3 linked regions of the Homo sapiens genome follow. The protein of the gene in region 2 binds, or shares a complex with, the protein of the main gene of each other region. Each region holds a gene or a part of one and is shown on either strand. Other genes may lie near its edges.

Region 1 (3,659 bases), on a different chromosome or scaffold from region 2:
AAACCAGCCCCCACTTCAATCAGATCAAAGTAATTCCATTCTGTTTTATATGCTGGGATTCTGCTTAAGATTTCATTTGATAAAAAGAATCTTCTGCTTAAAAACATTTGCTTGCTGACTCCATATTAGGTATTCCCAGAAGAGCCTGGTCTGCTTTCTCTCTCCACCCCCCAACCCGCCATGTCTCCCTTCACCCCCAGGGGCTGTTGGTAATTCCATTGAGTCTGAGGCAGGGCCCCCAAGAATCAAAGCTGCCTCAGATTCAGGTCTGTTCAGCTTTGACAGTGTTCCCATCATCACTGGACAAGGGACAAGAACAGTCTCATCCAGTCTGAGGTTAGCCCAAGCCAGGTCTCAGCTAAGAGCTGACACCCTAAACCCTTGTCTCTTGGGTTCATCTTCAATATCCCTGGAAGATGTCCCCTTCCCCCCATCTTACTCTCATAGACCTAAGTAATCAAAAGTAGAATGGGTAGAACAGAGGGGCCAGAACCAGCACATGGATGAATATACTTCCTTTATCGAGGGTGACAAACCAAAACAAAAAAAGACCAAACATGTAAAAACCCAGGGTTCTAGAAATACAAACTCAATTCATTCAAATTCAAGCTCATCCAGACCCTGGTCACAAACCCTAGTGAGGTGCATGTGAGCACCAAGTCAGGGAGAGGGGGCAGGAGTGACTCTGAGGCCAACAGAGAGGGTGGGAAGGGGATCTCCCTAGGTCCCCTGGTGATCACCCCCCACCCAAACTGGTATCTCCACATTCTCAATGACTATGAAGACATACCAGGCTCTGTCCTTTTGGCCCCCACCCCATCCCTGGCCAGAGCTTCAAAGGCCAGTCCCAAAAGGTTCTACCCTCACTTGCTCAGGCTTCTAGCCTTCCTCTTCTCCTCCTTCTTCACATTTTTCTCTGTGATTAGTAGCAGGTTAGGGTACTGTATAAGCCGCAGTGAGGCTGGGGGCCAAGGGGGTGGGGTAGAGATGGGATGAAGAGAGGAGAAGAGCTGTCCAAGGACCCCTCTCTTCATGGGATCCCAAACTGTACAACCAGCTCCTCTTTTGCGTCCACACGGATCTGAGAAAGTGCACTGTAGGCATAAGCAGCTATCCTGGAGACCTGAGACAGAGAGGGGCCGGGGAGGAGAGGAACAGAGACAGGTGAGGAGGGCAATCAGGAAAAATGGGGAGGGGAGATTAGATGGTGATGGAGAAGGAGGGAATGAAGGGGAACAGGAAGGCAAAGAGAAAGACAGGGATGGGAGAGACAGAAGGAAAAGAACAAAGGGGAGTGAAACAATAAAGGTTGCAGGAAGGAGATAGGAAAGACATAAAAAGTTAAGAGAACGAGGTGGGAGGGAGCTGGGGCCTACAAGGCTACCAGGCTCCCTAACTCCACCTTCCCTACCTCCTCTGAGGCAGAGTGGGTGAACCCTCTGCCATACCCTGGGCAGTGTGAGAAGGGTGGGCAGGGGCAGGTGAGGGGTGTCTCACCTGCTGCAAATCAGAGAACGGGATGGGCTCACTGGCCAGCACTTGGTGGGGCTGGCTGGTAAGAGACGGCAGCGGTGGCAGCTTCTTCCAATGGGTCAGGCTGCTGCTCAGCACAGCCAAGCGGGTGCTGACCAAGAGAGAGGGGGTGGGGGTAGGCAGTTAAGCCACAGTCTGCCCTGCCCAGCCCAGGTAAGCCTCATCCCCTCAGGCCAGAGAAGCAGGGTGTCGAGGAGGGGTATCTGGGAGGGAAGGTCTCAGCTCATCACAGACTCAATCTAGGCCCATCTCCCTTGGCCTCAGCGCCCTCAAGAGTGTCACAGGGTAAACAGGGCTGACATGAATAACTACTGAAGCACCCAAGTGATCTGTGGTCAGTCTCCAGGGCTGCACCAAATGAGAAGCTTGGACTAGGGGCCAGGCTCCAAAGCTGGAACAGTGATGGAGGGTGGGAGCCCAAGTAGCCTGAGGGACCCACGCTGGCCAGGTGCTCACCTGTACTGCCTGGCACGGTCCATGTACTCATGCTGCTCCATGCCCTGTGAGTCTGCAGCAGACACATCAATGATGTTGCTATGGGGAGAGGAGACAGAGATGACATGACAGGTGCTTCCGAGAAGGACAAACAGGACTCAGTGCCAGGTACCAACTCCAGGGCTATCTGACACCAGTTTCCCTCCTGCCTACTGGAGCAGGGCTGGACATGGAGGCACCTCTCCCCAGTGACCTTGTCCCATCCCCCATGTCCTGAGCCTGGCTCCTTCTATCCTAGCCTTTAATATGGATAGAGGAGCTCTGACCCAGGCCTGGTCCTCTGACACTTACCTGGCTGTCTTGGCAAGGATGGAAGAGAGCAGGGCCTGCTCATCAGTGCGAGCGGAAGGCAGGCTGTGGTAGTTGGGCTCGGCTCCATTGAGAGCTTTGGTAGGGGGGCTGCTAGGGTCCAGCAGCAGCTTCCGCTCCTCTCGGTCCTAGAAGTGGTCATGGGAGAGAAGTCAGCCCCAGGACCCGTAGATCCTGCCTTTCACGGGTGCTACCCTTAGCCCAGCTCTGACCTTAAACACCAAAAATGTTTCTATAAGGAATATCTAAAGTGCCCAGCTTTATGGAATGCCAGATAAGACTCAGTTCCTGCCTATCCTTGGGAGCTCAACTGAGTTGGTGTTCTAGGATAAATGAGAGTGGAACCAGGCAGTCCTAGAGGCCCTGAAAAAATGGACAGAGGCACAAAGCAGGTAGTCAGCAACAGCCCTGGAGCTTGAAAAACATTCTAGGACCTGGCAAAGAAAGGATACTAGAGGCTGGAAGACAGTGGAGCTGAGACATAGCAAGCACTGGGATCTAAAGGGGAAATCAGTGCAAGTCAAGAGCCCAAGAACAGCCTTCCTCATCCCCTAGGACCAGGCCTTCCCCAGCAAAGCTGTTCGCTTCCAAGATGGAAGCCCTGGCGAGTCCAGACAAAGCCCTAGGCCCCAAGAGAAAGCAAGCCCAACCTCTCCATGGCCATTTCTCAAATTATGTCAGGGCAGGAATCCCAGCCCAGCTCTGGGTCACACAGTACAAGTGTGTTCCCTTCTTGAAGGCAGGTCCCTTCGAAGGTGTTCACCCTCCTGTGCTCTGGTGCTCTTTTTGTACGTGACTCCCAGAACCAAACTGAGTGTACATGGTGTATCCTGATCTGAGCAGTACAGCTGTAGCCATGTATGGTGATTCACACCAGTAATCCCAACACTTTGGGAGCCCAAGGCAGAAGGATTGCTTGAGTCCAGGAGTTTGAGACCAGCCTGGGCAACAAAGCAAGACCTCGTCTTTGCAAAAAAAAAAAATTAGCTGGACTTGGTAGTGTGAGCCCTGCAGTCCCACCTACTTGGGAGGCTGAAGTGCAACGACTGTATGAACCCAGGGTTTGAGGCTGCAGTGAGCTAGGACTGTGCCACTGTACTCCAGTCTGGGCAAGAGAGCAAGACCCCATCTCAAAACAAACAACAATGGCGCTGTTCCCTCCCTTGCTAAACCACCTGAGTAGCCCATGTAAATTTTCAGCAGCCCTGTTCCTGCTGGCCTGTGCTGATAATCACAACCCCTGAACTAATGTAAGACCAAACCAAGCTTCCTCATTGGTTTGGTCTTCCTCCTTGTCCTCTTTCAGTCCCCTGTTCTATCTA
Region 2 (3,753 bases):
AGGGGTGGGATCCATGGACATACCTGTGAGAATGTAGGTATTTCAGGAAGCTTCTTAAACAAAAGTAATTTAGAACAAAGACCTTTTAAAAAAATTACAGTTTGATAACTGAACAAAAGGAACATTTGGTTAAGTTTAAAGAATCTAGAAAAGATCCATTTTCCTCCAAACAGATTTATTGAATACAGCAAAATTCTATATACAAAGTGACCTGGACCTGCTGCTTCAAAACATGATCCTTTCTTACTAATATCTTGATAGTCGGTCCATAGAGCATTAGAAAGCAATTGACTCTTAAATAAACAGAAAAGTGCCTAATGCACATTAAATGAATGGCCTAACTACTGGAACTTTAGTAGTTCTATAAGGTAATTAACATAGGTAGGATCCAGTTCCTATGACAGGCTGCTGAAGAACAGATATGAGCATCAAGAGGCCATTTTGTGCACTGCCACCGTGATGCCATCGTGTTTCTGGATCATAATGTTCCTGAAATGCAGGAAGAAAATATTCAGTAAAACGTAATCAGTGGGACTTCACTGCAAGATTAAAGATGTTGTTTGCTTTAGGATACAATATTTAAAATAATGTAATTGTTTCTACGTATAAAAGCAATATTTAAACATAACAAAACATTTGGGAAATACATAAACATATAGCATGTGAACACGAAATGAATCCTTAATCCTACTACACACAGACAACCACTGTTAATATTTCCCTGGTTCTTTGTTTCGGTTTTTTAGGCACTGTCTTGCTATGTTGCCCAAGCTGGCCTCAAACTCCTGGGCTCAAGCAATCCTGCTTCAGCCACCTCAGTAGCTGGAACTACAAAAAAAAGGCTTTACTGGTCTTTGTTTTCTTTGCATGTATATGATACAGTCATGTGCTGCATAACAATGCTTCAGTCAACAGTGGACCCTACATATGATGGTGGTCCCGTAAGATTATAATGGAACTGAAAAATTCCTATTGCCTAGTGACCTTTTAACCGTCCCAGCATCACATAGCACAACACACTACTCACATGTTTGTGGTAATGCTGGTGTAAACAAATTGTGCTGCCAGTCATAAAAAGTATAGCACATACAATTATGTACAGTACGTAACGCTTGATAATAATAAATGACTATGCTATGGTTTATGTATTTACTATACTTTTTTTCTTTTTTTTGAGACGGAGTCTTGCTCTGTTGCCCAGGCTGGAGGGCAGTGGCGTGATCTCAGCTCACTGCAACCTCTGCCTCCCGGGTTCAAGCAATTCTCCTGCCTCAGCCTCCTGAGTAGCTAGGATTACAGGTGCCTGCCACCATGCCTAATTTTTGTATTTTTAGTAGAGACAGGGTTTCACCATGTTGGTTAGGCTGTCTCACACTCCTTACCTCAAGTGATCTGCCCGCCTTGGCCTCCCAAAGTGCTGGGATTACAAGTGTGAGCCACCATGCCGGGCCTACTTTTTATCATTATTTTAGAGTATACTACTCCTACTTATTAAGACAAGGTTAACTATAAAACAGCCTCAGACAGGTCCTTTAGGAGGTATTCCAGAAGGTATCATCATTACAGGAGATGACAACTCCATGCATGTTACTGCCCTGGATGACCTTCCAGTGGGAGAAGATGTGGAGATAGAAGCCAGTGATATTGATGATCCTGACCCTGTGCAGGCCTAGGCTAATGTGTGTTTCTTCTTTGCTTTTAACAAAAAAGTCTAAAAAGTAAAAAAGTTTAAAAAAAGAATTTTTGTACAGCTGTACAACTGTTTTAAGTGTTATTATAAAGTCAAAAAGTTTTATTGACTCACTCAGAGCAACTTCCAGTGTTGTAAGCTCCATTATGGTAAGTGCCCTATTCAGATATACCTTTTAAAAAATTTCCCTATACCATACTTTTACTGTATCTTCTCTACGTTTAGATACATAAATACCACTGTTATAACTGCCTACATTATTTAGGCTACAAATCTTTGTAGTCTAAGAGCAATACAGCCTAGGTGTGTAATAGGGTGTACCACCTAGGTTTAAGTACACTCTATGATGTTCATACAACAAAACTGCCTGACACATTTCTCAGAACATATCCCCATTGTTAAGCAATGCATGACTGTATGTTTTTTCTTTTTACAAGGCTGTGATAGTAGCAGTTGTATATATATACTTTTTTTCACATATTATTCTGAGGACCATCACTTGGAATATCTTTAGTAATTTTATTGCTTTAGAAGTAATTTTTGGCTGGGTGCAGTGACTCATTCCTGTAATCCCAGCACTTTGGGAGGCTGAGGCGGGCAAATTACTGGAGCCCAGGAGTTCGAGACCAGCCTGGGAAACATGGTGAAACCTCATCTCTACAAAAAAATACAAAAATTAGCTGGGTGTGGTAGTGTACACCTGTAGTCTCAGCTACAACTCGGGAGGCTGAGTTGGGTGAATCGCTTGAGCCCGGTGGGGTTGAAGTCACAGTGACCCATGATCACACCACTGTACTCCAGCCTGGTGCCAGAGCAACACCCTGCCTCAAAAAGAAAAAAAAAAAAAGTAATTTTTATTCTCTGATTAGTTTTCCTTTGTGCTATTTGTTACTTTCTTTTTGTTGGTAAACTGATAGCTTCTGCCAATTCTTATTCTTCATTTAAATAGCATTGTGGCCTGAGAGCACATTAGCTTTAGGGATCAACTTGTCTGTTCCTGTGATTCAAAAGATTAAGAACTTTTCCCAAAGTAGTCTGAATAAGGAATCACTGATGAACACAGGGCCGGCCCCCGCCAATTTTACCAGGAATTTTTCTGAACAAAAAGGAAAGGATCTGCTGAAATCTACTCACCCATTATCTGATTCTAGACACACCACAGGAATATCAGTGGGGTCAGAGGTTAGCTTAGCTGCTTGCTGGGCTAGAACAGATATCACTCCAGCATGCTCATCTGACAGGGTCCCGCGGCCTGGAAAATAGAGATGATATATGTCACCTGATTGCTCATAGAGTATTTCTGCTAAAATAAGCTAGCTGGCTGTTTTAAAATGTCTACAGAATTGTCTTTTTATTAATGTCTGTATTAGTCTGTATATATTATAGTAACTAAATCTCGGGTACAAAAGTACCTATAAATTCTAGGTACGAAAATTAATTACTAAGTGTACTTTACAATATATTTCTGTATATAAAGGCAACACAAAGTTAACTGTACCTGAAACCAAATCAGGTAATAGACATGCCACTATGGCAGAGCATTTGGATGTACTATTACTATACAAAACATTTTGACCAGATCCGATGCCGACGTTTGAGCCTTGAAGGTTTCTTGAAGGAACTCATTTAGTTTTAGATTTCCATACCTGAATTTCAGTCTTTCCATTAGTAAGCCTAGCAAATGCTTCCAAAAATTTACCCTTTTTCTCCCAAATGACTGATCTGCATGTTAAACATAACTGAGTTACACCGATTACCTCTTTCAGTTACCCTTCCAGCAAAAATTCAGAGCTTTAAACATTCCTGCATTAGGAGCAACAAGTCTTGGGTTTACTAGTTGTCACTAATTAACTGAATGCTTTACTTATTTACCTTTCCAAACTTATTTCCTCATGTGTAATTGCTACCATTTATTAAGTATTATGTCTCAGTTCTATGTAAGCATTTTATACATATTATATAACCTTAAAATATCGTGATTAGGCCGGGTGTAGTGGCTCATTCCTGTAATCCCGCACTTTGGGAGGCGGAGGTGGGTGGATCACCTGAGATAAGGAGTTCGA
Region 3 (3,753 bases), on a different chromosome or scaffold from region 2:
TTGTGCAATGTGATAGCTCGGCTGACTGGCACACAGGTGCTCAATGCATATGTACTGAACTGATCCAGGGAAAAACTGATTGTCAAAGAGCCTAGAAAGAAATTAACTCTGAATGATAGACTGCATTCCTGAACATAAAGGGTATATTCTAGAACTGTAGTACCTCTTTCATGGAGATTAAATTAGGTTCATGCCTGAGGTTTCTTGGTTTCTTTTCTTTTTTGTTTTTGAGACGGAGTCTCTGTTGCCCAGGCTGGGGTGCAGTGGCACAATCTTGGCTGACTGCAATCTCAGGTTTCTTTTCCAGTTAACAGTTCATACTACCGTAAAACAATCTCCAAACCAATACCTACAAGAAACACTCATTATTTATTCATGTGGCTGAAAGAGTATATTAATTATGTTTAGATTTTTGGAAAAAGTCTGAACAAAAAAAGGACCTATACAGTGCTCAAACTATATTTTTAAAAATACTATTTTATTTTTACTCACATATGAAAAAAATGGCTGTACTATCATGTTTACATACATACTAACATTGGAAACAGAATAACGAATTGTATTTAAATTTTATGAAGAACACACAAACATTAAAACACTGATTGGTTACAGAAAGCAGAGTTTGAGGAAAAAACATTAGCTATAATTTTCATTTTCATTAAAGAGCAGCACCCTCTGAGAATAATCAAACTGATTAGTAATATTCATCTATACTGCAAAATAATATGTACAAAGGAAAGTTAGTGATTGTACTGATTTTATTACTTTTACCAAGCCATTTTATGTTCCTCACTCAATGCAAAGAAATAAAACATAATCTGAAGAAAAATATGTCCTTATTATTATTCACAATAAAAAGTTGGCTTTATTCTGCAAGCCTGGGCATATTGTACAATTGGCAGCACTTAACGGCTCAAGTGGATCAATGTACCAGTTTGATTCTGATCCACTGAATAGAATCTCTCATCCATATCTGGTGACCAGACTAACTCCATGGGAGCTGTGATAGACTGAACCATTTCTGTGGTATCCCTAGATCTCACTAAATAAGAAAGACCCTACACCAGAAAATATAGCAACTGATCTATCTATAAATTACATCTATATGCTAGCTCTTTAGTATAAGTTGGAAAAAGGGGCCCTTTCTTGAGCACATGGATAAAAGTATTATTGTAGTCTAAAGATTGCTGGATTGATATTGTGTTGTTATAATGAAGATAAGGTACACACTGAAACCACTGTCAGATTAAGAAACTTCCACAACTTGTCTCAGTTCTTCAAACAATGGAGCAAGTTCCTTTTCTAGGCTGACAATTAGTCCTAAAATAAAGAGATTAAGAAAATTACATGTTAGAAAAATGTTCCTCAAAGCCTGAAACTCAGATTTCCTTATGTCCAAAATACATAGTTACCAAAAGTAAATCAGAACATAGTTTATTTCCCATGACTGAAACAAAATACAGGTTGAATATCCCTTATCCAAAATGCTGGGTATCAGAAGTGTTTTGAATTCTGGAATATTTGTACAATACTTACTATTTGAGCATCCCTAACCCAAAAATCTCAAATATGAAATGCTCCAGTGAGCATTTTCTTTGAATGCCATATTAGTGCTCAGAAAGTTTCAGACTTTAGAATGTTTTGGATTTCAAATTTTTGGATTAGGGATGTTCAACCTGTACTATAACCCTAAATAAAGCAACCAAAAACTTTGTAGTCATTAATAAGTTTATTTTCAGCATCTATTACTAAAGTGAATGAGTGAAAAATACTTATATATTAGGAAATACAGAATAAATTATATGCACTATAATTTGTTAAGAGTTTTGAAAGGAAAATCTTAATTTATACCTTACTGCTTCAAAATTTGCCTTGACTCAGAAATAATACATATGATTTTTACTAAATAAAGCATACTTTTGTCTCTAAGCAAATTTTAACAGATTATATCAAAAGATAGGTGCTTCTATATTGAACAAAGAAAATCAGAAATTTATTTTTATAAATTTGACAAAGCTAAGACATAAATAAATATTTCAAATGAAAAAATATTTTAAAAATAAATGGTAGAGTACAAAACACACTGGAGTTCAATGATGAACCTGGGAGATAAACATCTAGAAATAAGCATATCTTGCTTCTCCTTAGTTTACTAGAGTGAAAGGCTATCTGCCTCAAACAGAGCCTGTTTTATGTTCAAACAAATAAAGATCTTTCTCTGTCTTATAGAATATAAAAAGCATCTGAACTCTCAAGGAAAGGGTCCAAGTACTAAAATATTGTTCTGTACATTATCATAGTATATAACAACTGGTGACTTAGTATGTGATGATAGGTGATTTATCAAAACTCAGATTTAGTATATTTCCTAAATATACTTAAAATCTTAACACCATTACTATCCTATATAATTCAGAAAGTGTTTTTACATACAGTATTTTACAGATTCCTAAAATGTTTTGAAATGGAAGAGATCTAATAGATCATCAAATCTAAACCTCTCATTCTAAAGATGAGGTATCTAAGAACAGGCTTCAGTGACATAGCTAGAAGAACTTGCTCAGTTTGGAAGAAAAAACAAATAGAAAAAAATATATTACAATTCTCAACAGCAATCAAATCTAAAGGAGACAGACCTTTTAATAAAAATCCTACTTTATATAAAATGAAGTAAAAAAATTACAACCAAGTGAATAGTCATTATTTTACACATAAATATCCAGTGAAGGTATTGGATACAATGGAATTTTACTATTCTCTATAAAGGGTACAGCTTCCTAGCATTTGTTCTCAAATTCTTCAGTTCTCAAGAAGAGTGAGACTATGTTCATCCTATTCATGCTCTTTAAATTCTCAATCACATTCATTTTCCCCATTAGGTAAAATTTAAAAAATTCTAATTTAATAGATTGGTCTGTAACTCATCGATCATTTTAATGCGTTTTGTTGGGTTATCTTCACCTTGTTTTCTTAAACTGCTGTAATGGGAGCAAGATGTAGCACTCAGATAACATTTAATTTTCCTGTCTCCAAAAAAAAAAAAAAAAAATCACTTACCCATACACTGTCTCATTTGAACTAGAAAATAACATTGTAAGATGGAGAAAGCATATATTATCTCCATTATACAGATATGGAAACCAGGATTCAGAGAAATCACTTTTCCCAAGACATGGAAAAAAGACAGTGAAACTGGGCCACAAGTTCAAGATTTTTGGCTCTAAATCTACTATTCCTCTTAAATTAAGGTATGGTAATTAAATTAATTTTTTAAAATTAAGGATTAAAGTGATATTTAAGGTCATTAAACACACCTGTATTGGCACTGCTGCTGGCTATGAAACTCACCACCAAAGGTAAACGATTAAATTGAACCACCTAAAAAGAAAATAAGAGCCAAATAATATGTTGCATTATGAAAAGGTAGTATAACTAAACTGAAATGTCTTAATCTTTCAAAAACTTTAAAATCATCAATGTTTTAGCCCAACATTATGGTATTATATTATGAAACAGAAAGGAACTTTATATTTCAGTGAATATTTCCATAAAACAGAATTAGTGATGATCTCTTAGAGACATTAATACCATTTGGCCTGGAAAGTTTTTAAGGTGAAACCATATCTTCATCTTTTTATCTCTAAAGCCCAACAGAATATCAATTACATTGTAAGGACTTAATAAATAGTTGATAATTAAATGGATAAATGCAGTATTTCTCAGTTATTCAAGTAGTTTTATCTTCATGATATT

The links.
Region 1: LAMTOR5 (region 2) and LAMTOR1 share a complex: the UniProt entries of both Homo sapiens proteins name them as parts of the ragulator complex.
Region 3: LAMTOR5 (region 2) and LAMTOR3 share a complex: the UniProt entries of both Homo sapiens proteins name them as parts of the ragulator complex.

The regions. Positions count from the first base shown.
Region 1 is NC_000011.10:72,096,792-72,100,450, forward strand, and holds the end of LAMTOR1 (ragulator complex protein LAMTOR1), read right to left. Parts: intron 2,466-3,659; coding exon 2,320-2,465; intron 2,068-2,319; coding exon 1,990-2,067; intron 1,625-1,989; coding exon 1,498-1,624; intron 1,124-1,497; coding exon 1,031-1,123; 3' UTR 501-1,030; downstream 1-500. UniProt on the Homo sapiens protein: Key component of the Ragulator complex, a multiprotein complex involved in amino acid sensing and activation of mTORC1, a signaling complex promoting cell growth in response to growth factors, energy levels, and amino acids.
Region 2 is NC_000001.11:110,401,095-110,404,847, forward strand, and holds the end of LAMTOR5 (ragulator complex protein LAMTOR5), read right to left. Parts: intron 2,943-3,753; coding exon 2,825-2,942; intron 490-2,824; coding exon 429-489; 3' UTR 159-428; downstream 1-158. UniProt on the Homo sapiens protein: As part of the Ragulator complex it is involved in amino acid sensing and activation of mTORC1, a signaling complex promoting cell growth in response to growth factors, energy levels, and amino acids.
Region 3 is NC_000004.12:99,880,748-99,884,500, forward strand, and holds part of LAMTOR3 (ragulator complex protein LAMTOR3), read right to left. Parts: intron 3,379-3,753; coding exon 3,315-3,378; intron 1,321-3,314; coding exon 1,247-1,320; 3' UTR 1-1,246. UniProt on the Homo sapiens protein: As part of the Ragulator complex it is involved in amino acid sensing and activation of mTORC1, a signaling complex promoting cell growth in response to growth factors, energy levels, and amino acids.